7 linked regions of the Homo sapiens genome follow. The protein of the gene in region 1 purifies or fractionates together with the protein of each later gene. This does not show direct contact. Each region holds a gene or a part of one and is shown in the gene's direction. Other genes may lie near its edges. The genes, in order: PSG8, FAT1, CELSR2, FREM2, MGRN1, LOXL2 and FRAS1.

The links.
Region 2: the proteins of PSG8 (region 1) and FAT1 purify together in Homo sapiens (affinity purification with mass spectrometry; 2 studies listed by BioGRID and IntAct, with this or other methods). This does not show direct contact.
Region 3: the proteins of PSG8 (region 1) and CELSR2 purify together in Homo sapiens (affinity purification with mass spectrometry; 2 studies listed by BioGRID and IntAct, with this or other methods). This does not show direct contact.
Region 4: the proteins of PSG8 (region 1) and FREM2 purify together in Homo sapiens (affinity purification with mass spectrometry; 2 studies listed by BioGRID and IntAct, with this or other methods). This does not show direct contact.
Region 5: the proteins of PSG8 (region 1) and MGRN1 purify together in Homo sapiens (co-immunoprecipitation; 3 studies listed by BioGRID and IntAct, with this or other methods). This does not show direct contact.
Region 6: the proteins of PSG8 (region 1) and LOXL2 purify together in Homo sapiens (affinity purification with mass spectrometry; 2 studies listed by BioGRID and IntAct, with this or other methods). This does not show direct contact.
Region 7: the proteins of PSG8 (region 1) and FRAS1 purify together in Homo sapiens (affinity purification with mass spectrometry; 2 studies listed by BioGRID and IntAct, with this or other methods). This does not show direct contact.

Annotation. Positions count from the first base shown.
Region 1 is NC_000019.10:42,762,879-42,767,129, reverse strand, and holds the start of PSG8 (pregnancy-specific beta-1-glycoprotein 8 isoform a precursor), read left to right. Parts: upstream 1-1,451; 5' UTR 1,452-1,548; coding exon 1,549-1,612; intron 1,613-2,848; coding exon 2,849-3,214; intron 3,215-4,251.
Region 2 is NC_000004.12:186,615,857-186,619,356, reverse strand, and holds part of FAT1 (protocadherin Fat 1 isoform 1 precursor), read left to right. Parts: coding exon 1-1,649; intron 1,650-2,155; coding exon 2,156-2,352; intron 2,353-3,500.
Region 3 is NC_000001.11:109,273,539-109,276,251, forward strand, and holds the end of CELSR2 (cadherin EGF LAG seven-pass G-type receptor 2 precursor), read left to right. Parts: coding exon 1-132; intron 133-483; coding exon 484-511; 3' UTR 512-2,213; downstream 2,214-2,713. UniProt on the Homo sapiens protein: Receptor that may have an important role in cell/cell signaling during nervous system formation.
Region 4 is NC_000013.11:38,690,077-38,693,576, forward strand, and holds part of FREM2 (FRAS1-related extracellular matrix protein 2 precursor), read left to right. Parts: coding exon 1-2,441; intron 2,442-3,500. UniProt on the Homo sapiens protein: Extracellular matrix protein required for maintenance of the integrity of the skin epithelium and for maintenance of renal epithelia. Required for epidermal adhesion. Involved in the development of eyelids and the anterior segment of the eyeballs.
Region 5 is NC_000016.10:4,676,826-4,680,325, forward strand, and holds part of MGRN1 (E3 ubiquitin-protein ligase MGRN1), read left to right. Parts: intron 1-637; coding exon 638-747; intron 748-3,206; coding exon 3,207-3,272; intron 3,273-3,500. UniProt on the Homo sapiens protein: E3 ubiquitin-protein ligase. Mediates monoubiquitination at multiple sites of TSG101 in the presence of UBE2D1, but not of UBE2G1, nor UBE2H. Plays a role in the regulation of endosome-to-lysosome trafficking.
Region 6 is NC_000008.11:23,394,121-23,397,620, reverse strand, and holds part of LOXL2 (lysyl oxidase homolog 2 precursor), read left to right. Parts: intron 1-3,500. UniProt on the Homo sapiens protein: Mediates the post-translational oxidative deamination of lysine residues on target proteins leading to the formation of deaminated lysine (allysine).
Region 7 is NC_000004.12:78,539,823-78,543,322, forward strand, and holds part of FRAS1 (extracellular matrix organizing protein FRAS1 isoform 1 precursor), read left to right. Parts: intron 1-708; coding exon 709-1,302; 3' UTR 1,303-3,500. UniProt on the Homo sapiens protein: Involved in extracellular matrix organization. Required for the regulation of epidermal-basement membrane adhesion responsible for proper organogenesis during embryonic development. Involved in brain organization and function.

The DNA of each region.
Region 1 (4,251 bases):
ATCCTCATCAACTCTTTCTGTCACTGCTCCCTAAATGCCCGCCCCTGCCCCATCTATCCTGTTCTCTGGGGCATCCCAGGCCAAGCCTAGCACTGACACAGAACAGCAGCTGCCTAAGGGCCCACAGCCTCCCCGGGAATCAGCCAGGCACCCTATGACCTGCCTGCCCGCTGCACCACGGGGTGCTCAGAGTGCGTGTGATGGTCACACACAGGCACCATCCGGGATGTGGCCACCTGCCCCAGCTGTCCCTTGGGAAGGCAGACCTCTCCTGTGCGCTTGCAGGGAGAAGCGGGATGTTATTGCTCTTTGCTCCCAGAACACAACTCACCCCCACACGCCCCCTCAGGTGTGAGCAAGGTCCCTCCAGACAGGCTCTCTGGCCACTGCCTGTTCCTCCTCTACACACAGCAGCTTGGCCAGGTCAAAACCCTCAGGACAGACCCCTGGGTATGTCGGCACATGGAGGGCTGAGCCCATCATGGCCACGGAGTAAGTCAAGATGAATCTCTCCAGCTCTGAACCCCTGCTCTGTCCCAGGCACACCCTCTTGCGTCTCAACGAGCCATCTCCCTTGGGGTTCCTGGGTGACTCCCCACTTCCTCCTGCACCACCACGGGGAAGGTGTGGTGACCACAGGACAATCAGCTGGGCAGAGAAGAGAGGACATCAAAGATGGTCAGGAAGAACATGAGAAACCCTGAGCTCCAGCTCAGTGGCCAGACCCCACGGAGTCACAGAGTGACCGAGAACTGTCCCTTTGACTATGGGACTCACAGCCCCCACTGAGCAACCAGCACAGGCCTCTCCTCCCAAGAGACATGAGAGATTCACCCTGCACACCTCCAGGAAGGACAGTTTCCTCTGGGACACCCAGGTCCTGAGTGTCCATCCTTGGAAGCTGCAGCCAAGCTAGACACGATTAGAGAAAGGAAGGGTCCCTCTCACCAGGCAACACACAGCTCACCCACAGCACAATGGGGTGTCACTGTGACAGGGACCTGGTGCAGCTCCAGCCTCCTGCACTGAAGGGGAGAGCCAGATGGGGATGAAAGAGGCCAAAGGGCATGAATGTGCACCCCGACCCAGAGCCATGGGGACAGCAGGAGGCTGAGGCCCAGGACTCTGCTTGCCCAACCTGCAGGGTATGTTTCTGACTGTGTAGGTCTGTGTGTGTCCTTCTGTGTGTGTGTGTGTGTGTGTGTGTGTGTGTGTGTGTGTGTGTGTGTGTGTGTGTGTCTGCACAAAGTGTGTGTTGAGGTTTGGTGAAAGAATCACTGCTGAAAAAGGCAGAGGCCTCCACAATTCCCAGGGACCTGAAACACAGACAAAAGGAAAAACAGGAGGGACAAGGAGGCAGGACTGAGAGAGGAGGGGACAGAGAGGTGTCCTGGGCCTGACCCCGCCCATGAACCTGAGAGGTGCTCCTGCCCCGGGAAGAAGCTCAGCGCAGAAGGAGGCAGGACAGCACTGCTGAGAGCTGTGCTCAGGAAGCTTCTGGATCCTAGGCTCATCTCCACAGAGGAGAACACACAGACAGCAGAGACCATGGGGCTCCTCTCAGCCCCTCCCTGCACACAGCGCATCACCTGGAAGGGGCTCCTGCTCACAGGTGAGGAGAGAACCTCCTGGGAGAGGACAGGAGGAGGAAGCAGAGTGACTGGATGGGGTCTCCTTGAGAGTATGGGGTACTAAAAAATGAAAGAAGCCAGCACTTTGGGAGGCTGAGGCAGGTGGATCATGAGATCAGGAGTTCAAGATCAGTCTGGCCAACACAGTGAAGCCCTGTCTCTACTAAAAATACAAAAATTTAACCAGATATTGTGGTGTGCTCCTCTAATCCTAGCTACTCGGGAGGCTGAGGCAGAAGAATCACGTGAACCCAGGAGGCAGAAGTTGCAGCTAGCTGAGATAGTGCCATCGCACGCCAGCCTGGGAGACAGTATGAGACTCCATCTCAAAAAAAAAAAAAGAGAAAAAAGAGAAAAAGGAAAGAAGGCTCTATTGGAGCCTGGATAGGGGGAAATACACCAGAGAGGGACAGGGGTCAAAACAGGAAAGTCACAGGAACCAGAATTGGTAAGAGGTAGGAAAATCTTGTGTTCTGTTTTCCTGATTAATCATCAGGGGCCACCACATTTTGAAATATGATAATAATAACTGTATCAGATGACACTTCACATAAAAATATACACAGGGCATGAAACACTGTCCTCAGCAAGAAACCTCAACAATTGGGGGGAAAAAAAAACACCAAGGGCGTGGAGGGCCCTGAGAACTCTCACATCTACAGGAGTCTGCAGCCTGTTCTGGGCACTGGGGTGCAACCAAGATCACAAAAATCCCTGTCCTCATGGAGCTCACGCTGTCATGGAGGGGAAGACAGACATGCAAAGAGATCTAGAATGTAAGGTCAGGTGTTGAGAAGAACCCTGGAGGGAGCAGAGCAGGGAAAGGTCAGAAAGGGAAGACCCAGGGTATCTGAAGGAGGTGTCAGGAAAGAAATCTAAGGATGCCCTGATGTGAGCAGGACCTGAGGGCAGTGTGGAGGGGGCCATGCGGACCCCTGGGGAAGAGGATTGCAAACAGAAAAATGCCAAGGTCAGAAGTGTTGAAGGAATGGGGGTCATGGGGCTGACCTTGACCTAGTAGGATAGTAGGACACACACACATACACACACACAGACACACATGCCGCTTTTGTGTGTGTGTGTGCGTGTGTTTGTATGTGTGTGTGTCTGTGTCTTCAAGGCTGAGGACTGAAGAGAACTTCTCAGGACCCAGGGCCCCATGTTTTCACACCAATACATAGCTCTCAATATTGACTGATGCTCTCTCCACCTCCTAGCATCACTTTTAAACTTCTGGAACCCACCCACGACTGCCCAAGTCACGATTGAAGCCCAGCCAACCAAAGTTTCTGAGGGGAAGGATGTTCTTCTACTTGTCCACAATTTGCCCCAGAATCTTACTGGCTACATCTGGTACAAAGGGCAAATCAGGGACCTCTACCATTACATTACATCATATGTAGTAGACGGTCAAATAATTATATATGGGCCTGCATACAGTGGACGAGAAACAATATATTCCAATGCATCCCTGCTGATCCAGAATGTCACCCAGGAAGACGCAGGATCCTACACCTTACACATCATAATGGGAGGTGATGAGAATAGAGGAGTAACTGGACATTTCACCTTCACCTTATATCGTGAGTGATTCCACATGATCCCTGGGTGTTGGGGGACAGGGGTCACTTCTACTTCACACACACAGGATTGTCAGGCCTGGACATTGCCTGTGTCCCTCTCTGCATTATGTCCCATGCTGGGGTTTGGGCATTTAGTGCAGGACACACACAGAGGAGACAAATTTCAACAGATCAGAATTCCTTTCCCGCATCCAGACCCTGCAGACACTCGCTGCAGAGGAAGGACAGTCTGATGGGGGGACTCAGCAGGAGGAGATCAGTCTCAGACAAGCACCTCATGCCCTCTTCATAAATTTGACCCTGAGAAAGACCCTGGAGAACTGAGTAGGGCTTGGCCTGAGGAGCCCCTGAGATACTCTCAGAGAAGCTCAGCCCTAGAAGCCTCACCCCCAGAACAGTGTCCCTAAATCCTTGCTCCAGATAAATCTGAGGAGCCTGTGCTGGGGCTGGGTTGTGGCTTCTTGGGCAGGGCTTACTGGGACCGAGGATTTACCAGCTGTCAGAGGACTGTGTCTCCTGGAGCTGTTCACCAGCCAGGGCTCAGCCCTCAGAGCCTCATCTGGGCAAGGACAGAGTTTTCTTCACCTGACACTCAGAGTGGAGAGGACAGAAAGACAAGCTTTGTAGGCCATCAGACAACTGCCTTAGGAGGCTTAGGCCAGTCCATAGAAAGTCTAATGTCCCCAGAAGCAGAAACACAAGAGAGAAGATGTACCTGGTAGCAGCTTGCCCACAGGGATCTGACGCAAAGGGGCTTTCTCATGGAAGCAAATTAATAATAAATGCTATTTGTGTGAAACCTCCACTGTGCCAAGCATTAGGTCAGGTGACTGTGAATCATTTAACATTTATTCACAGATAGCATGAAAAGCCACTGTCCATTTGCCATTTAGCTTATCTGATTGACAGAAAACTGAGGTACAGGAAGACACAGTCCCTGAGCCAGAGTCACACAATCACAAAGGGGAGATCAGGGTCACATGAGGTGTGTCCGCAGCCACAGGCTCATCCTCTCCTCCACCAGAAGTGAGGGCTCA
Region 2 (3,500 bases), on another chromosome or scaffold:
CTGTGTAAAAGCCTATGATGCAGACAGTTCAGACATAGACAAGTTGCAGTATTCCATTCTGTCTGGCAATGATCATAAACATTTTGTCATTGACAGTGCAACAGGGATTATCACCCTCTCAAACCTGCACCGGCACGCCCTGAAGCCATTTTACAGTCTTAACCTGTCAGTGTCTGATGGAGTTTTTAGAAGTTCCACCCAGGTTCATGTAACTGTAATTGGAGGCAATTTGCACAGTCCTGCTTTCCTTCAGAACGAATATGAAGTGGAACTAGCTGAAAACGCTCCCCTACATACCCTGGTGATGGAGGTGAAAACTACGGATGGGGATTCTGGTATTTATGGTCACGTTACTTACCATATTGTAAATGACTTTGCCAAAGACAGATTTTACATAAATGAGAGAGGACAGATATTTACTTTGGAAAAACTTGATCGAGAAACCCCGGCGGAGAAAGTGATCTCAGTCCGTTTAATGGCTAAGGATGCTGGAGGAAAAGTTGCTTTCTGCACCGTGAATGTCATCCTTACAGATGACAATGACAATGCACCACAATTTCGAGCAACCAAATACGAAGTGAATATCGGGTCCAGTGCTGCTAAAGGGACTTCAGTCGTTAAAGTTCTTGCAAGTGATGCCGATGAGGGCTCCAATGCCGACATCACCTATGCCATTGAAGCAGACTCTGAAAGTGTAAAAGAGAATTTGGAAATTAACAAACTGTCCGGCGTAATCACTACAAAGGAGAGCCTCATTGGCTTGGAAAATGAATTCTTCACTTTCTTTGTTAGAGCTGTGGATAATGGGTCTCCATCAAAAGAATCTGTTGTTCTTGTCTATGTTAAAATCCTTCCACCGGAAATGCAGCTTCCAAAATTTTCAGAACCTTTCTATACCTTTACAGTGTCAGAGGACGTGCCTATTGGAACAGAGATAGATCTCATCCGAGCAGAACATAGTGGGACTGTTCTTTACAGCCTGGTCAAAGGGAATACTCCAGAAAGCAATAGGGATGAGTCCTTTGTGATTGACAGACAGAGCGGGAGACTGAAGTTGGAGAAGAGTCTTGATCATGAGACAACTAAGTGGTATCAGTTTTCCATACTGGCCAGGTGCACTCAAGATGACCATGAGATGGTGGCTTCTGTAGATGTTAGTATCCAAGTGAAAGATGCAAATGACAACAGCCCGGTCTTTGAATCTAGTCCATATGAGGCATTCATTGTTGAAAACCTGCCAGGGGGAAGTAGAGTAATTCAGATCAGGGCATCTGATGCTGACTCAGGAACCAACGGCCAAGTTATGTATAGCCTGGATCAGTCACAAAGTGTGGAAGTCATTGAATCCTTTGCCATTAACATGGAAACAGGCTGGATTACAACTTTAAAGGAACTTGACCATGAAAAGAGAGACAATTACCAGATTAAAGTGGTTGCATCAGATCATGGTGAAAAGATCCAGCTATCCTCCACAGCCATTGTGGATGTTACCGTCACCGATGTCAACGATAGTCCACCACGATTCACGGCCGAGATCTATAAAGGGACTGTGAGTGAGGATGACCCCCAAGGTGGGGTGATTGCCATCTTAAGTACCACGGATGCTGATTCTGAAGAGATCAACAGACAAGTTACATATTTCATAACAGGTAAAAAAAATTCATACCAAACGGTTTAATTAATTTAAAATGATTTTTAGAAGCATAAAGTATAAGATCTGTATTGTATGGAAATTGGGGATTTAAGGGATGATTTTAGTTAAAAATATCTAAAATAATACGTAGAAATAACATCTGTTGAGCCTCATTTCAAGCTTGTTACCTGAGCAAAGCTACCAGTTGTTTCATTAGACTGTTTTTGATTTTTGTGACTCATTCTTTTGAACCTTATACTTAGTGTATAATAAATATAATTAAAAACATCTATAGTTTTAATGCAGGCTAAATGATTAGTAGTCTTAATGCTATGTTTATGCATTTTAATGCTGCCCTTGTTTTTGTAAATTGGAAGGCTAATATATGCCAAATTAATTCTTTTAATACTCAATTCTTTTAAACTATAACATTATACATCTTTTGTACAGTTTATTTTTTCTGTTACTTATTTTTATCCTTTCAACAAATTTGATTATTATCTTCCTCCATTGATTTAATAGGAGGGGATCCTTTAGGACAGTTTGCCGTTGAAACTATACAGAATGAATGGAAGGTATATGTGAAGAAACCTCTAGACAGGGAAAAAAGGGACAATTACCTTCTTACTATCACGGCAACTGATGGCACCTTCTCATCAAAAGCGATAGTTGAAGTGAAAGTTCTGGATGCAAATGACAACAGTCCAGTTTGTGAAAAGGTAAGCAGCTCTTCCCTTACATTTGTGTGTTATGAATTTCAATTTCTTAATTCTTTCAATGGGACCATCATTTGGCGCTGTGGTGTAATTCACATGTGTTTTATGATCACTTACTGATTAAGCAGAGGTGTTAAATGGGGTAAGACTTGGAAAAGCTTCAGAACTATTTGCGGGAATGCTCAATAAATCAAAAGCCTCATTCTAGAAAACTAAATTACGGACAGGACTCCAGTTGCATCCAACACTGAAAATGCTCTGTAACCTTTTCATGAGGGGATTCTCTTAATATGGGGATACAGCTGTTTTGGGGGAAGGATCTGACGGGAAACAAAGTGCCGACGTGCCGTGAGACACTGTTTTGGGGGCATCTGCTCTTCTGCACGCTGGAGAAGCTCAGAGGTGGACAGCGTGCTTCCTGCATCTGCGCGGCTCACCATTCAGTGGGAACTAAAAGTAGACGTAGGAAGGGCTGCTCCCTCCAAGGTTAGATGAGGGCATGTGGCTCGAGCAGGGGTGGTCCCTGGGGCCAGAGGGTGAGAAGGGCTGCCCAGAGAAAGGGCTGGCTCAGCTTCGGGGGGCAGTAAGTGGGTCGTCAGGAGTGGGTGGGGAGGGGCCATGGAGTGTGAGGAGGGATTGTGGGAGTAGCCACTGAGTTTGCCAGAAGTGGGGAGTCTGCACTGAGAGTCTTGGAAAAGGGTGAACTGGATTACAGTGGGCAGTGGCGGTCGTTCCAAGGGATTTGAACTCGATCCTAGAGAAAATAGGGACTTTGGAGCCTTTTATATCGGTAAGGTAGAGATGACATGAGACGAGTTCTTAAGCTTAGTTTGGAAGCATCGTGCCCATTATTTAGACAGGGAGGAGTGGATGCAAGGGGGCCCTGGAAAGGCAGAGGTGGGGAAGGAGTGAAAGGACCAAAGCCACCACCGAGGAAGACCATCTGGTGTGACAGCCAGCCAGCATGCCATCGAGCCCGACTTTCTACATGAGTAGGGGGAGCGACCAAGGCCGTGGCAAAGAGGAGTCTGAGCCGGGGGCTGGTTTTAGAGGAGTTCCGTGTTGAGTTCCAATTCCAGTTTGCTAAAGTAATGAGACATACAGTTGACCATGTTTTTTAGACATTGAGAGATGGCGAGATGTTGGATGGG
Region 3 (2,713 bases), on another chromosome or scaffold:
TGAGGGCAGCCGGGGAGGCCCCCCTCCCCGCCCACCGCCCCGGCAGAGCCTCCAGGAGCAGCTGAACGGGGTCATGCCCATCGCCATGAGCATCAAGGCAGGCACGGTGGATGAGGACTCGTCAGGCTCCGAGTGAGTGTGGCCGGGTGGGCGGGACGGGGTGCAGCCCCTCGGAGGCCTCACCTGGGCCCAGAGCTGCCTCCGGGCCTCCCCAGGTGACTCTGGATGGCATTTGGAGGACAAATGGGCAGAACTGGCCCAGCTCCCTTACTATGCCGTGCCCACAAACCATGGTGCCTTGCGGGGAGGGCCACCCCTCCTAGGCTCTACGCGGCGCAGCCCAGCCTAGGGCAGAGTGCGGGAGGATGGGGAGCTGGGGGTGCTTTCCTGTTTCCTTCGTCTGGTGAAAGCTTTCACTCTCTCCTCTGTTTCAACTAACCCTCTGTCTGCCTTTTCTGCCACTTTCCTTTCCTGCCTCTCCAGATTTCTCTTCTTTAACTTCCTGCATTAACCCTGGGCCGTGGTTCCTACGCCCGAGGCTCCCTTCCCTTCCCCAGCCGCACTCATGCCCTGCTCCTGTCTTGTGCTTTATCCTGCCCCGCTCCCCATCGCCTGCCCGCAGCAGCGACGAAACGTCCATCTGAGGAGCCTGGGCCTTGCCGGGAGGGGTACTCACCCCACCTAAGGCCATCTAGTGCCAACTCCCCCCCCACCATTCCCCTCACTGCACTTTGGACCCCTGGGGCCAACATCTCCAAGACAAAGTTTTTCAGAAAAGAGGAAAAAAAGAATTTAAAAAAGGATCTCCACTCTTCATGACTTCAGGGATTCATTTTTTTTATACGCTGGAAATTGACTCCCCTTTCCCTTCCCAAAGAGGATAGGACCTCCCAGGATGCTTCCCAGCCTCTCCTCAGTTTCCCATCTGCTGTGCCTCTGGGAGGAGAGGGACTCCTGGGGGGCCTGCCCCTCATACGCCATCACCAAAAGGAAAGGACAAAGCCACACGCAGCCAGGGCTTCACACCCTTCAGGCTGCACCCGGGCAGGCCTCAGAACGGTGAGGGGCCAGGGCAAAGGGTGTGCCTCGTCCTGCCCGCACTGCCTCTCCCAGGAACTGGAAAAGCCCTGTCCGGTGAGGGGGCAGAAGGACTCAGCGCCCCTGGACCCCCAAATGCTGCATGAACACATTTTCAGGGGAGCCTGTGCCCCCAGGCGGGGGTCGGGCAGCCCCAGCCCCTCTCCTTTTCCTGGACTCTGGCCGTGCGCGGCAGCCCAGGTGTTTGCTCAGTTGCTGACCCAAAAGTGCTTCATTTTTCGTGCCCGCCCCGCGCCCCGGGCAGGCCAGTCATGTGTTAAGTTGCGCTTCTTTGCTGTGATGTGGGTGGGGGAGGAAGAGTAAACACAGTGCTGGCTCGGCTGCCCTGAGGGTGCTCAATCAAGCACAGGTTTCAAGTCTGGGTTCTGGTGTCCACTCACCCACCCCACCCCCCAAAATCAGACAAATGCTACTTTGTCTAACCTGCTGTGGCCTCTGAGACATGTTCTATTTTTAACCCCTTCTTGGAATTGGCTCTCTTCTTCAAAGGACCAGGTCCTGTTCCTCTTTCTCCCCGACTCCACCCCAGCTCCCTGTGAAGAGAGAGTTAATATATTTGTTTTATTTATTTGCTTTTTGTGTTGGGATGGGTTCGTGTCCAGTCCCGGGGGTCTGATATGGCCATCACAGGCTGGGTGTTCCCAGCAGCCCTGGCTTGGGGGCTTGACGCCCTTCCCCTTGCCCCAGGCCATCATCTCCCCACCTCTCCTCCCCTCTCCTCAGTTTTGCCGACTGCTTTTCATCTGAGTCACCATTTACTCCAAGCATGTATTCCAGACTTGTCACTGACTTTCCTTCTGGAGCAGGTGGCTAGAAAAAGAGGCTGTGGGCAGGAAAGAAAGGCTCCTGTTTCTCATTTGTGAGGCCAGCCTCTGGCTTTTCTGCCGTGGATTCTCCCCCGTCTTCTCCCCTCAGCAATTCCTGCAAAGGGTTAAAAATTTAACTGGTTTTTACTACTGATGACTTGATTTAAAAAAAATACAAAGATGCTGGATGCTAACTTGGTACTAACCATCAGATTGTACAGTTTGGTTGTTGCTGTAAATAGGGTAGCGTTTTGTTGTTGTTGTTTTTTCATGCCCCATACTACTGAATAAACTAGTTCTGTGCGGGTACAGCACTGTCACTGTCCGCTTCTGTGTGGTACCCTGTCCTCCCACAGGGAGGAAGGTCTGGTCTCTGGAAAACAGAAGAGCCGGCAGGGCCCAGAAGGCCCCACCGGGAGGTCGGGAGACTCAGACACCACTGGCTGATAAGCCTGTCCCTCTGCCCATGTCCATGACACTGCTCCCAAATAGCTGGATCAGCACAGAGCCCATTTCCTGGCATTTCCAAGGAAGACATGGTGGGCGGGCAGGAAGGTGTCCTTTTCACCAGGACGGAAAGGACTTCTACGGTGGGAGAGGCTGCACGGGGCAGGCAGCCTTCCAGCCCAGCCCCTCAGGGCTGAGTCCTAGACAGGGATGAGTTTTCTGGGGCAGAATTCAAGAAGCAGGGAGGGCTGCATTGAGAGGCTGGTTGGAATTGAATGGTGGTCAGTGACTCAGTGCCTCCTAACTATACTGCTCAGGGTTGTTTTTTGTTTTTTTTTTCCCATTGGAAAATGAAGCAGCTA
Region 4 (3,500 bases), on another chromosome or scaffold:
TGATAGCTGCTCCTTGGAAGTCAGTGACAGACATCATGTGGTGCCCATCACTCTCAGAGTAAATGTCCGGCCAGTGGATGATGAAGTGCCCATACTGAGCCATCCTACTGGCACTCTGGAGTCCTATCTAGATGTCTTAGAAAATGGGGCTACTGAAATCACTGCCAATGTTATTAAGGGGACCAATGAGGAAACTGATGACTTGATGTTGACTTTCCTCTTGGAAGATCCACCTTTGTATGGGGAAATCTTGGTCAATGGCATTCCAGCAGAGCAGTTTACTCAAAGGGACATCTTGGAGGGCTCTGTTGTATATACCCACACCAGTGGTGAGATAGGCCTATTGCCTAAAGCGGATTCTTTTAACCTGAGTCTGTCAGATATGTCTCAAGAATGGAGAATTGGTGGCAATACTATCCAAGGAGTTACTATATGGGTGACCATCCTGCCTGTTGATAGCCAGGCCCCAGAAATCTTTGTAGGTGAACAGTTGATAGTAATGGAAGGTGATAAAAGTGTTATAACATCAGTGCATATAAGTGCTGAAGATGTCGACTCCCTGAATGATGACATCTTGTGCACTATAGTTATTCAGCCTACTTCAGGTTATGTTGAAAACATTTCTCCAGCACCAGGCTCTGAGAAATCAAGAGCAGGGATTGCCATAAGTGCTTTCAACTTGAAAGATCTCAGGCAGGGCCACATAAACTATGTCCAGAGTGTCCATAAAGGGGTGGAACCTGTGGAGGACCGATTTGTATTTCGTTGTTCTGATGGCATTAACTTTTCAGAGAGACAGTTCTTCCCCATTGTAATCATTCCCACCAATGATGAACAGCCAGAGATGTTTATGAGAGAATTTATGGTGATGGAAGGCATGAGTCTGGTAATTGATACACCCATTCTCAATGCTGCTGATGCTGATGTTCCCCTGGATGATTTAACTTTCACTATTACCCAATTCCCCACTCATGGTCACATCATGAATCAGCTGATAAATGGCACGGTTTTGGTCGAAAGCTTCACCTTGGATCAGATCATAGAGAGTTCCAGCATTATTTATGAGCATGATGACTCCGAGACCCAGGAAGACAGTTTTGTGATTAAACTAACAGATGGGAAGCACTCTGTGGAAAAGACGGTCCTCATTATAGTTATCCCTGTTGATGATGAGACGCCCAGAATGACTATCAATAATGGACTAGAAATAGAAATTGGGGATACCAAGATTATCAACAACAAAATATTAATGGCAACAGATTTAGATTCAGAAGACAAATCTTTGGTTTATATTATTCGTTATGGGCCAGGACATGGCTTATTACAGAGACGAAAACCTACTGGTGCCTTTGAAAATATCACACTGGGCATGAATTTTACCCAGGATGAAGTAGACAGAAACTTAATTCAGTATGTCCATTTGGGGCAAGAGGGCATTCGGGACCTAATTAAATTTGATGTGACTGATGGAATAAATCCCCTCATAGATCGTTACTTTTATGTGTCCATCGGGAGCATTGACATTGTCTTCCCTGATGTGATAAGTAAGGGAGTGTCCTTGAAAGAAGGTGGCAAAGTCACTCTTACAACAGACCTACTAAGCACTAGTGACTTGAACAGTCCTGATGAAAACTTGGTTTTTACCATCACCAGGGCTCCCATGCGAGGTCACCTGGAATGCACGGATCAGCCTGGTGTGTCCATCACGTCTTTCACTCAGCTGCAACTGGCTGGAAACAAAATCTACTACATCCACACAGCTGATGATGAAGTGAAAATGGACAGTTTTGAGTTTCAAGTCACCGATGGACGTAACCCTGTCTTTCGGACATTCCGTATCTCCATTAGCGATGTGGACAATAAAAAGCCAGTGGTCACCATCCACAAGCTGGTTGTCAGTGAAAGTGAAAACAAGCTGATTACTCCTTTTGAGCTCACTGTCGAAGACAGAGATACTCCTGACAAGCTCCTGAAATTCACTATCACCCAGGTGCCTATTCATGGCCATCTCCTATTCAACAATACCAGACCTGTCATGGTTTTTACCAAGCAAGACTTGAATGAAAACTTAATCAGCTACAAACATGATGGCACTGAGTCAAGTGAAGATAGCTTCTCCTTCACAGTGACTGATGGCACCCATACAGACTTCTATGTTTTTCCTGATACGGTGTTTGAAACAAGGAGACCCCAAGTGATGAAGATCCAGGTCTTGGCTGTTGACAACAGTGTCCCCCAAATCGCAGTGAATAAGGGGGCCTCTACACTTCGCACTCTAGCCACTGGCCACTTGGGGTTCATGATCACAAGCAAAATATTGAAAGTGGAGGACAGAGACAGCTTACACATTTCTCTTAGATTTATCGTGACAGAGGCCCCTCAACATGGATATCTTCTCAACCTGGACAAAGGCAACCACAGCATCACTCAGTTCACACAAGGTATGTTTCATGTTTCTTTTCTTGGTTATCCTTGTTTCCTGAGAATGTGGCTTCACTAAAAGCCTCACAAACAGAGCATTAAATTAGAGTCCAAGAGAAGGAAAGGAAACAAAGGGGATGGGGAGAATATAGGGACTCACTTTCCTAGGAGGACAGCTCCCTTCTTGTCCTACCTCCCATCTCAGTGGCCTTCATTAGAGGGAGTACTGATGTATTTTGAAAGTGGCAAGGATAGGCTGCCGAAGCAGGAGGTGAACTTTGGTGAATTAAAATCGAAGCAGGCTTTCCAATTCTGCTCCATTTGCCATACCTATCCAACGCATCCTCTGTGTTGTATGCTGCAGGTGGTTCATGAAGCATTTTGGCACCTTAATGAAGGATGTGCTTTCTAAATACTGTTTATTCACATTGCTGTCATTATCAATTACCATTCCAAAAAAGCCTTCAAACTTAGGTTACTTTGAATAAATTTTAAGAGCATTGCTCTGACACGGTTATAGTTGTTAGGAACTTTGTAACTAAAAGATTTGTTTACATTTATTTACTTTGTTGATTTTTAAAATTGTTAATAATATTTCATGACAGGCAAATACTCATCCAGAGACGTAATTGATAAACACCTATCTAGAGTTATAACAATGATATTTACAGGGCATGCTACTAGGATATACATGAAAAAGGAAAGTATACTTAAAGATGTGTAAAATAACAATATGTTCATCACCAAAATATACATCTAATTCATTATTAAGAGCATGAAGATAAGTAGACAAGCTTAATATTAGAAGGGGGAAATTATTTCATCATTGTGAACCTCCTCTCTGACCTGTTGCAAACACAGTGACAAAAAACAGTTGCTTCAGGCACCTGCGGTCTTTAGGCAACAGGATTTTTCTAACCTGAATTTCCTTTGTGGGTGGACACAATCTGAGGCAGAAAGGACAAGTGTCCTATGCAGAGTTATTTAGTGAGGGAAGGGAGAAGCCCATTCACTATACTGGCTTGGGAGTCAGGGCTCCGTTCTGCAGAACATGCAACTTTCATTACAGTGGGATTTGG
Region 5 (3,500 bases), on another chromosome or scaffold:
TGTGCCCCTCAGCTTCCCCAGCGTGATGTTTTTGCCTCAGTTTCCCCAGCGTGACTCCCCACTTCAGCTTCCTCAGCATGATGTCCTTGTCTCAGTTTCCACAGCATGACATCCCCACCTCAGCTTCCCCAGTGTGATGTCCCCGCCTGCCATCCTGTCCTGCAGCCAAGAGCTCCTCTGGGCTCAGCCAGGACTGCTGATTTGCAGTCACGTCCTGTCTCGGGTGCAGCCTGGAGCTTCAGGGGTGTGACGCTTTGGGGGTCATGGCCACCAGCCTCTTGGAAACACCCTCTGGAGCCCCGCCTTGGGCAGCACTGCATGGCCTTGCTGTGTTTCCTGCCCGGGGCCATTTCATTAATACTGTGTTTGCGGGAGTTCTGTCTCTCGTCTTTGGAGCGCCCCCTCCCTCTATTTCTGTACAGGGGAGCTGCTTCTTTCTTTCTTCCCCCATCTTTCCTGCCTATTAAATTCCTGCTCCTTAAAACTAAAAGAAAAAAAAAAGACCGTTGTGATCTGGAAGCGGGGTCACCCCAGGACCCCTATGGTGTGGGGGGGGTGTTGATCCCTGGGGCTGGGAGGGTCCCCTCGGGGCTGGGTGTGTCGCCTGGGCCTGATCTGAGCCCTCCTTCTGCCGCAGCTTTCCGGGCCCTCCTGCAGATCCGGGCGGTGCGGAAGAAGCCAGGAGCCCTGTCCCCCGTGTCCTTCAGCCCCGTCCTGGCCCAGAGCCTGGAGCATGATGAGCACTCTGTAAGTGCCGCCTCCTGCCTGCGGGATGGGCGGGAGAGGGGCATGAGTGCCTGGGCCAGGCGCAAGGCCCAGACGGTCCAGCCAGCAGCCCCGTGTTCTCTTCTGTCCAGTGGGCAGGCATGGCCCCCATGGATGGCTGTGAGGCATGAAGGGGGTGGCCAGGCTGGGCCCTGGGGTGCCGCTGCTGGGAACAGCGCTGCTGCCATCAGTACCAGAGCCTGCGACAAGGCTGAGCGCGGTCGAGGTCTCGGTGGAGCCAGGTGCTTTTTTTTTTTTTTTTTTCTTTTTGAGGCAGGGTCTCGGTCTGTCACCGAGGCTGGTGTGCACCCAAAGTGGTGCAATGTCAGCTCACTGCAGCCTCGACCTCCCGCCTCAAGCAATTCCCCCATTTCAGCCTCCCAAGACGCTGTGACCACGGGCGTGTACCACCACGCCGAGCTAATGTTTTGTATTTTTAGTAAGGTGGGGTTTCCCATGTTGCCCAGGCTGGTCTCGAACTCTTGGGCTCAAGTGCTAGTCCTGCCTCAGCCTCCCACAGTGCTGGGATTACAGGCCTGAGCCACCGCCTCCACCCCGTGGTTCTTAGTGAATGAGCCATGCTGTTTCCCCCATGCGCTGCTGTGCAAGGGGCACTGGTGACCCTCCTCCCACGCTCCAGGCCCACCAGGCGCCCTCAGTGGGGACCTTAAGGGCAGGCCCTGCTTCAGCAACACAAGGGAGGTGGAACCCTGGCTTCAAGGACCCAAAGACAGACAGAGACATGGAGAGAGATGCACAGAGAAACACAGAGACAGGGCGAGAGAGAGGTGGAGAGACACAGGGAGAGGCAGAGACAAATGTGGAGAGACACAGAGACAGGATGAGAGAGATGTGGAGAGACAAAGGGAGAGACAGAGAAAGATGTGGAGAGACATAGGGAGAGACTGATGGAGAGATAGGAAGAGACAGACAGATGTGGAGAGACGGAGAGACAGATGTGGAGAGACAGGGTGAGAGAGATGTGGAGAGACACAGGGAGAGACAGAGATGGGGATGGGTGGCAGGGGCTGTGGTGGGCAGGGAGCAGAATGGGGGAGTTGGACAGTGACTGGTTGGGCCCGGGTCTTAGGCCCCCTGCTCCCCACTGGCCACGCGCATTGTCAGATTGAGTGCCTTTCTTGGCTCTTAGCTGTGGCTGTTATGAGCCGTTGGTTCTTCCAGGCTCTGCTGCCTCTCTAAACAGAAAAGAGGAGCAGAGCCCTGAGGACTGGCGTTCACAGACAGCGCCTTTGCTCTAGAAGGCTCCTCCCAAGCCCCCTTGATCAGGGCCTTGACCTGGGCCCTATGGGCCTCCCTGGCAGCAGGTGCAATGTTTCTGAAATGGGGTCAATGTTTAAAAGTCTGGAATTTCCCTTAAAACCCAGATTTTGGGTTTGTCTTTTAAAATCTGACATGGTCTTGATGCTAGAGGAGAAACATGGCTTGGGGGTCCCTGTCAACCCAGGCCCTCTAGGCCCCTACCATCGTGGGGCTCCTGGCACCACGCTCTCCAGCACTTTTGATGTTGGCTTTGATTCGGAAACGCTGCGTGTGCTCAGGTTTTTGGTGGAGAGAGAAGCAGCCCCTGAGGGATTTGCCTCTGAGAGGGTTTCACCTAGGGAGTGATCGATGCTCAGGCGTGGCTAGGTTTATTGTCCCTTGTTTTTGCCCCTCCCTGTTTGTGTTCTGGTGGCTGAGGATCCAGTAGGTCCCTCCATGTTTGTCCCTCTTATGCTGAGTGAGCTGGGCGGCCGGGGTCCGAGGTGTGACCAGGCAGCTCTGACCTCCACATGCCCCAGAAGGGCTGGCACCCAGCCAGGGAGCCGCCGTCCTCTCTGCATGGAGCAAAAGCAAACGCTCCTCCTCACCTGCCAGGTTCCTGTTGGAGCCCCTTCCACGTAGTGACAGAAAGAGCCACCGTGGGTGTTCTCTCCAGCGAGTGCCTAAAGATGATGGTGGGGTGGGTGGGTCTGGGGCTGACTCTTCTCCCCAGCCCTCTTGAGGGGTTCATGGTTGGTGATAAGTGAGCGGCGGTGCCTGGGCACCGGCTGGCTGGGGGACTTTGACCAGTGTGGCTTCAGGATCTCCACCCTGCACCCAGCCTGCATTAGGCAGCGTTCAGCTGCCCTCACGTCCACCTTGGCCAAATCTGTTGCCCCAGGTGACCCAGACTGCGGGGGGACAGGCAATGGGGATGAGATTGGGCTCCACAGCCTCCCCACTGCAGCAGCACAGCTCCCGGGAGCTGCCGAGACGCACACATGGCCCACCCAGACCCGAGTCAACCCTCACTTAGGACAGTCCCGAGATTCACGTCCCCCGGAAGCTTGTGAAGTTCTGCGCCACGGTGTGGCAAGAGGACAGCCAGTCAGACCTGTCCAGCCCACTCCAGGGCCGCGTGGGGGTGGTAGTTGTAAAACATATGATTTTTATCTTGACAGTGTCCCTTTAAAAAATCAAAGCCGCACCCCGCCTCCCTGGCCAGCAAGAAACCTAAAAGGGAAACAGTAAGTGTCTGGTCCTCCGGCTACGTTTTTTTGCCCCCGCCCTCATTTTTAAACCCACGACAAGTAGGGGAGATCGTTTCCGCCCCAGGCTAGTGTCTGATTCATATAACCCGTCAGCTCCACTTGCCCAGTCCCGGCCTCCCTGCCCAGGGAGTTTGTGGAACCGGAAAAGCTCTCGGTCCGTGGGCGAAACGCCAGGTGCGCTGGCCCCGCCGCCCTCCCCTCAGC
Region 6 (3,500 bases), on another chromosome or scaffold:
ATTTTTAGTAGATACAGGGTTTCACCGTGTTAGCCAGGATGGTCTCGATCTCCTGACCTCGTGATCCACCCGCCTGGGCCTCCCAAAGTGCTGGGATTACAGGCGTGAGCCACTGTGCCTGGCCGGAAAAGCATATTTCTAAAGATGATTTCACCCACCCCAAGAATAGCATATCTAGGTAAAATCACATGATCCTAAGTATATACCCACATAGGCTTTTTGGGTTGCTTTTGTGTTTATTGTGGTAAAATATACGTAACATAAAACTCACCATCTTAACTATTTTCAAGTGTACAGTGCAGTGGCGTTAAGTGTGTTGACACTGCTGTGCTACCATCACCATCAGCCATCTCTGGTACTTTTGCATCTTCCAAAACAGAAACTCTGTACCCATTGAACACTAACTCCACTCTCCCCCTCCGACCAATCCCTGGCAGCCCCCATTCTACTTTCTGTCTCTGTGACTATGACTGAACTAGGTACTTCATATAAGTGGAATATATTATATTTGTCTTTTCGTGTCTGGCTCATTTTACTTAGCATGGCTTCCAGGTTTTTTCACGTTGTAACCTGTGTCAGAATTTCCTTCCTTGTTGAGCCTGAATAATATCCCACTGTATGGATAGACCACATTTGTTTATCTCCTCCTCCACTGGTGGACATGTGAGTTGTTTCCACCTTTTGGTGACTGGGAATAATGCTGCTGTGAACATTGGTGTACAAATGCCTGTTATGGATGAACTTTTACAAAGTGAACATGCCCTTGCTACTACATCAAGAATAGAACATTAGCAAGAATGCATGAATTTAAAGGCAAAGCAGGAGATTTCAAATACGTTTCATGCCCAAACATGGCTGCTTCAATTACACCTCAAGATCTTGGGACTGGATATTGATTTTCTCTACCATGAGGGGGTTTGGAAGAGATATTTGAAAGAACACAGTTAATAATCTGTGATTTGAAAGAGTCAGTTTATAATCACAGATTAGTTATGAGATTTAAGTAGCTCCTTTCCTTAAAACGTCTAGGGATGGGAGTACAACCTGTTGAGATTTGCAATTGTAGCTGTGTTAGGGTATCACCACTAGGATCATTCCAGGCTGCCCCTTGGCCATTGTAGGGTTCAAATCCACCTGGAGAACTCCTGCCTTTCTGGCAGCTTCTGCTGGAGCACAAGTCTAAGCCCATTCTTTGGCCGTATCCTGCCTGCCCTCCTCATTTCCTTCCTCCCTCCTTCCCTTCCCACCTGATCTCTCTCTCGTTTTTTTGTTTGTTTGTTTGTTTGTTTGTTTGTTTGTTTTTGAGACTGAGTTTTGCTCTTGTTGTCCAGGCTGTAATGCAATGGCACGATTTGGCTGACCGCAACCTCCACCTCCTGGGTTCAAGCGATTCTCTTGCCTCAGCCTCCCGAGTAGCTGGGATTACAGGCATGTGCCACCACACCCTGCTAATTTTGTATTTTTAGTAGAGACAGGGTTTCTCCATGTTGGTCAGGCTGCTCCCGAACTCCCGACCTCAGGATCCTGCCGCAGCCTCCCAAAGTGCTGGAATTACAGGTGTAAGCCACCGTGCCCAGACTTCTCTCTCTTCTTAAGTAGAACGATTTATCAGTGACTCTAAGAGTTTATGTGTGTATTTAGAAATAAGGCCAGGCACAGTGGCTCACACCTGTAATTCTAGTACTCTGGGAGGCCAAGGTTGGGGGATTGCCTGAGCTCGGGAGTTCGAGACCAGCCTGGGCAACAGGGTAAAACCCCATCTCTACTAAAATTACAAAAATTAGCCAGTCATGGTGGTGCACGCCTGTAATCCCAGCTACTCAGGAGGCTGAGGCGGAGGTTACGGTGAGCCAGGATTGTGCCACTGTGCTCCAGCCTGGGCGACAGAGTAAGACTCTGCCTCCAAAAATAATAAAATAATAATAATAAAGTCTTCAGTCAAGAGTAATATTTTGATGCCTGGCAACCACCCCCAGGCTGCCTGCATGACACTTTCAAGTGTCATCGAAGTAGATTCTTTTTTAAAAGACTTTATTGAGATATAATTTGCATATCATCCAATTCACCCATTAAAATGTACAAGTCAATGGATTTCAGTATATTCACAGATATGTGCAAATATCACCCCAGTCAACTTTAAAATGTTTTCATCAACACAAAGAGAAGTCCATATCCGTTAGCCACCACCGCCTATCCTCCCAGCCTTAAACAGCCACTAATCTAGTTTCTGTCTCTATATTGCCAATTTTGTATAATTTGTGTAAATAGAATCATATAATATGTGGTTTTTTTTTTTTTTTTTTGGTCTGGCTTTTTTCACTTCCCTTAATGGTTTTTTTGTTGTTGTTTCTTTGTTTTGTTTTGTTTTGAGACGGAATCTTGCTCTGTCACCAGGCTGGAGTGCAGTGGCGCCATCTCGGCTCACTGCAACCTCCGTCTCCCAGGTTCAAGCGATTCTCCTGCCTCATCCTCCCAAGTAGCTGGAACTACAGGCGTGCGCCACAATACCCAGCTAATTTTTGTATTTTTAGTAGAGACGGGGTTTCACCATGTTGGCCAGGATGGTCTCGATCTCTTGACCTCGTGATCCGCCCACCTTGGCCTCCCAAAGTGCTGGGATTACAGGCGGGAGCCACGGTGCTCCCCTAATGTTTTTAAGCCTCACCATGTGTCAGTATCTCGTTACTTTTTATGGCCGAATAATATTCTATTGTATGGGCATACCGTATTTTGTTAATCCATTTATAGTTGACAGACATTTGGGTTGTTTCCACCCTTTGAGTATTATGAATAATACTGCTATGAACATTCATGTAAAAGTTTTGTTTGAACACCTGTTTCAATGTGTTTCAATTTTGGGGGGGTATATACTTAGGAGGGGGGTTGCTGGGTCATATAGTAATTCTATGTTTAGCTTTTTGAGGAATCACCAAATTGTTTTTCACAGTGGCTGTAGTATTTTACATTTCCACTAGCAACGTATGAGGATTCTAATTTCTCCACATCTTTGGGGACACTTTTTATTTTCCCCTTAAGAAAATTCCAGCCACCTTTATGGGTATGAAGTGGTATCTCATGGTACTTTGTGTTTGCTTGATGACGAGTGATGTATCACACCTTTTTATGTGCTTGTAAGCCATTTGTATATCTTCTTTGGGGAAGTGTCTATTTAAGTTTTTGCCCATTTTTAATTGGGTTGGTTGTCTTTTTTTTTTTTTTTTTTTCTCTGAGACAGAGTCTCACTCTGTCACCTAGGCTATAGTGCAGTGGCACGATCTCGGCTCATTGCAACCTCCACCTCCCGAGTTCAAGCGATTCTCCTGCCTCAGCCTCCCGAGTAGCTGGGACTACAGGCACGCGCTACCGTATCTGACTAATTTTTGTATCTTTAGTAGAGACAAGGTTTCACCATGTTGGCCAGGCTGGTCTTGAACTCCTGACCTCAGGTGATCCGCCCACCTCGGCCTCCCAAAGTGCTAGGATTACAGGCATGAGCCACC
Region 7 (3,500 bases), on another chromosome or scaffold:
CAAGAATTACTATTTGATAAACACAAATACCTTAAGTCTTAGCAATGAACATGAACTTTCAAGATGAAATTTCACTTTTTTTGTCTCTAAATATTAATCTATGACCCTTCAGAACTATTATCATGCTTCAGAAGTTATTTCGAAACCATGAAGCATTTTAATGGAGGAAGATGAGGGGGAGATAAAATACTTGATGATATAGCCTGATTGAGAAGGTGTTTAGAAAATGTTTGTCACGTATCTGTGTATTATGCACAGAGTATATGTTTAGTGAATATTTTGTTGAATGACTCCATTTTCGCTGAAGTTCACCAATAAATAGTAAATTGGCATAACACATAATTGAAGGTCACTGTAAATAAATGTGGTTTTTAATGCTATTATTTCACTGCTATCAATAAAGACAGACAAATATAAGCATTCACTTAGCTAAAGAGACCATGAAAGATAATTTCTTAGGCTATTCCATGTACACATAGGGAAACAAAAAAGAATCCGAATAGCTGACTCAAGATCATCTTAATTTGGAAATAAAATAGAACCCATATCTGGTTCAGTTCTCTATGTATTAGTAGACACCAACCATTGCTAATGCTTTTCTGGAAATCAGTTATCTATCAAGGCATATAGTGGCAATTATCCTTCCATTTCCTTTCTTCAGAGGTGGTCTGTGGGCAACAACAACATGTTCGGTTTGTCCCCCTGCAGGTGGAAGCAGGACACCAGTGGTATCTCCAGGTCATCTACATCATTGGCCCTGACACCATCTCAGGGCCCCGGGTCCAGCGCTCTCTCACAGCTCCACTCAGACGCAACCGAAGGGACCTGGTAGAGCCCGATGGCCAGCTGATCCTTGATGATTCCCTCATCTATGACAATGAAGGAGACCAAGTCAAGAATGGCACCAATATGAAGTCCCTGAATCTGGAGATGCAAGAGTTGGCGGTAGCTGCGTCCCTGTCACAGACTGGGGCGTCCATTGGCAGTGCCCTGGCTGCAATCATGCTTCTACTTCTGGTGTTTTTGGTGGCTTGTTTTATCAACAGGAAATGCCAGAAACAGAGGAAGAAGAAGCCCGCAGAGGACATTTTGGAAGAATATCCTCTGAATACCAAGGTAGAAGTGCCCAAGAGGCACCCGGACCGGGTGGAGAAGAACGTGAATAGACACTACTGCACTGTGCGGAACGTCAACATCCTGAGTGAGCCTGAGGCGGCTTACACGTTCAAAGGTGCTAAAGTCAAAAGACTGAATCTAGAAGTCAGAGTTCACAACAATTTACAAGATGGAACAGAAGTTTAATGGAGGAGACCTATGTGTATTTTTTTCTAAAATCATTTTTATAAAATGGGGGGAAATACTGGTATTTTTATAATCTCGCAGATAAAAAAGGGAAAACTATAGCTTTGAGTGGCAGACAGCACACATCACATGCATCAACTCACAACTGAGCTACCTCATTCAGCAAAGAACCACTGAGAACCCCAGAGTATTACAGTTATTTCCGTAGATCCCTTTAATAGTGTCAACAACTGTACACAGCTCCTTCTGTAAGGCTGGTCTTAGAAAACAAGTACTTTAGTATCAGGACAGGAGTTGAACAATTAGGTTAGCAGATGGAGATGAGAGGACTGGGTAGAGTACCATGGCAGATCTCAGAGAGAAGAAGTAGGTACGGGCCTTTGGTTCCCTCCCCCAGCCCCAGCTTTCTCCTACAGGGCTTTTCCTGAGTCCCCAGACAGCAGAGTATGAACTGCTGACACCCAGATTCCATTAAAAATTCTGCTAATCGACACAACACATATATTTGCTCATGATTTCACTTGACAGCGTATGCTCCTTGGCCTCTAATTGTACTTTGCTTTTCCAGAGCCCTTTTTACCTGGGGATTTCAGTGTGCTTAAGTAAAATCCTCTGAAAACCACGGGAGCCTCTGCCTCCTCAGCCACAGAGAACTCCCTCCTACAAAGGGGGAGACTGAAACCCGAGTTAAGGAGGGGCCTGGCAGGCGTATCAGAGCACATTAGTGATGCCCTTCACCCCAGGGAGGTGTCTGTTCCCAACTAGTTTATGTGGCACTGAGACATCCATCCCTGACCAAGGATGCTGCGAAACAGGATCAATGTACTACGGCCTTTTAATTCAACATTGCCATAAATGCTTTAAAGAAAACCCACCACACTTTCCTCCTACTCCGGTCTTTGCCCGTTCCTGTAACAGACAATCCCATGTCCTAGGTATGGTTTTTTATTCTGTTAGTGCTTCGGGAAAGTAAGTGATTCATTTGAATAAGGCAAATTAGGAGAAAGCCCAGGTTGGGGTGAAATCAGACTTAACAGATACATGCTGGTTCTCCTTGCTGTGTGTGACACAGCAGACAGAGGCACTATTCCTGGTGCAGTATTTCAGGGATTTCTCTTTGAGGGGTTCTTTTCTGGTAGCTCAGGCAATTATTTTTACCATATCAGCACATGACAAGGCCATGAACACATGGCTCTAAAATAATTTAGTGTTCAAGTATCAGCTTAACTATTTTGTGTAGGCTACACACAGCTTGCTTTTGTTTCTCTTCTGTTTCTGCCTTATTGGCGGAAACATAAGCGTGCATGCCATGTTGTTTTGAATTGGAGGCACAATTTCATTATTCGAGAGTAAAAGACATGTCCTCTTCTGATGCATGGCACACCATAGTCACCAAGCAAATAACAGAGCCTTCACATTGTGTAATATTTGTATGAGAATGACTCAAGCTCTTTGAGAACATTCCAAACTAGTAACATTTCGCTACTAAAAGCTAGAAAGGATGAACTGTGAAAGGTTCTAGGCAGCTCTGTGAGACTCCAAGCTCCTTGAAAGTAGGACCTTTGTGAGCCACGCCTTTCATTCTTCAACAGTGCCTTGCATGTAACAAGCACTCCAGAAATGTTTGTTGAATGAATGAATGGTGTCATGGGTGAATGATGGGGAGTAAATTTAGGAAGGGGAAGTGAGAGAGTATGGTGGCAATATCACAAGGGAGGAGAGAGGAAAACAATTATCTTCTCTACTTGGATTATGAGATAACCTTTTCTTGGAGGAAAGAAACACCGCTTTACAAAGGCATGACTCTGGCGGTGGTCCTAAGGAAGCATGAGCAGAAAATTCATAAAAATGTATCATCAGCAGGAGATGAGACTATGAATTGGCATCCAGAACAGGAGATTTAGAGCAAAATCTAATTTAGCATTCTGAGATGAGTGTCAGGTTTTCAGGAGAGAATGAGTTGGGGTGAGCCCAGAGTCTGAAACTCCTGACTGGTCAGGTGCTACTTAAGACCAGCTTGGGCAATTCAGGGCAGAACTCCTGTATCAGCCTCATGGACACCCAGAATTGGTATCTCATGGCTGGAGAGCTGATCAGCCAGGCACAGAATCTCCAGAACAACCTAGAGAGTGAATGCTAATTTGTAGAGCGAACTTCCATTTGGCCCATTATTTGTAACTGTGTAACTGCTCCAAGTG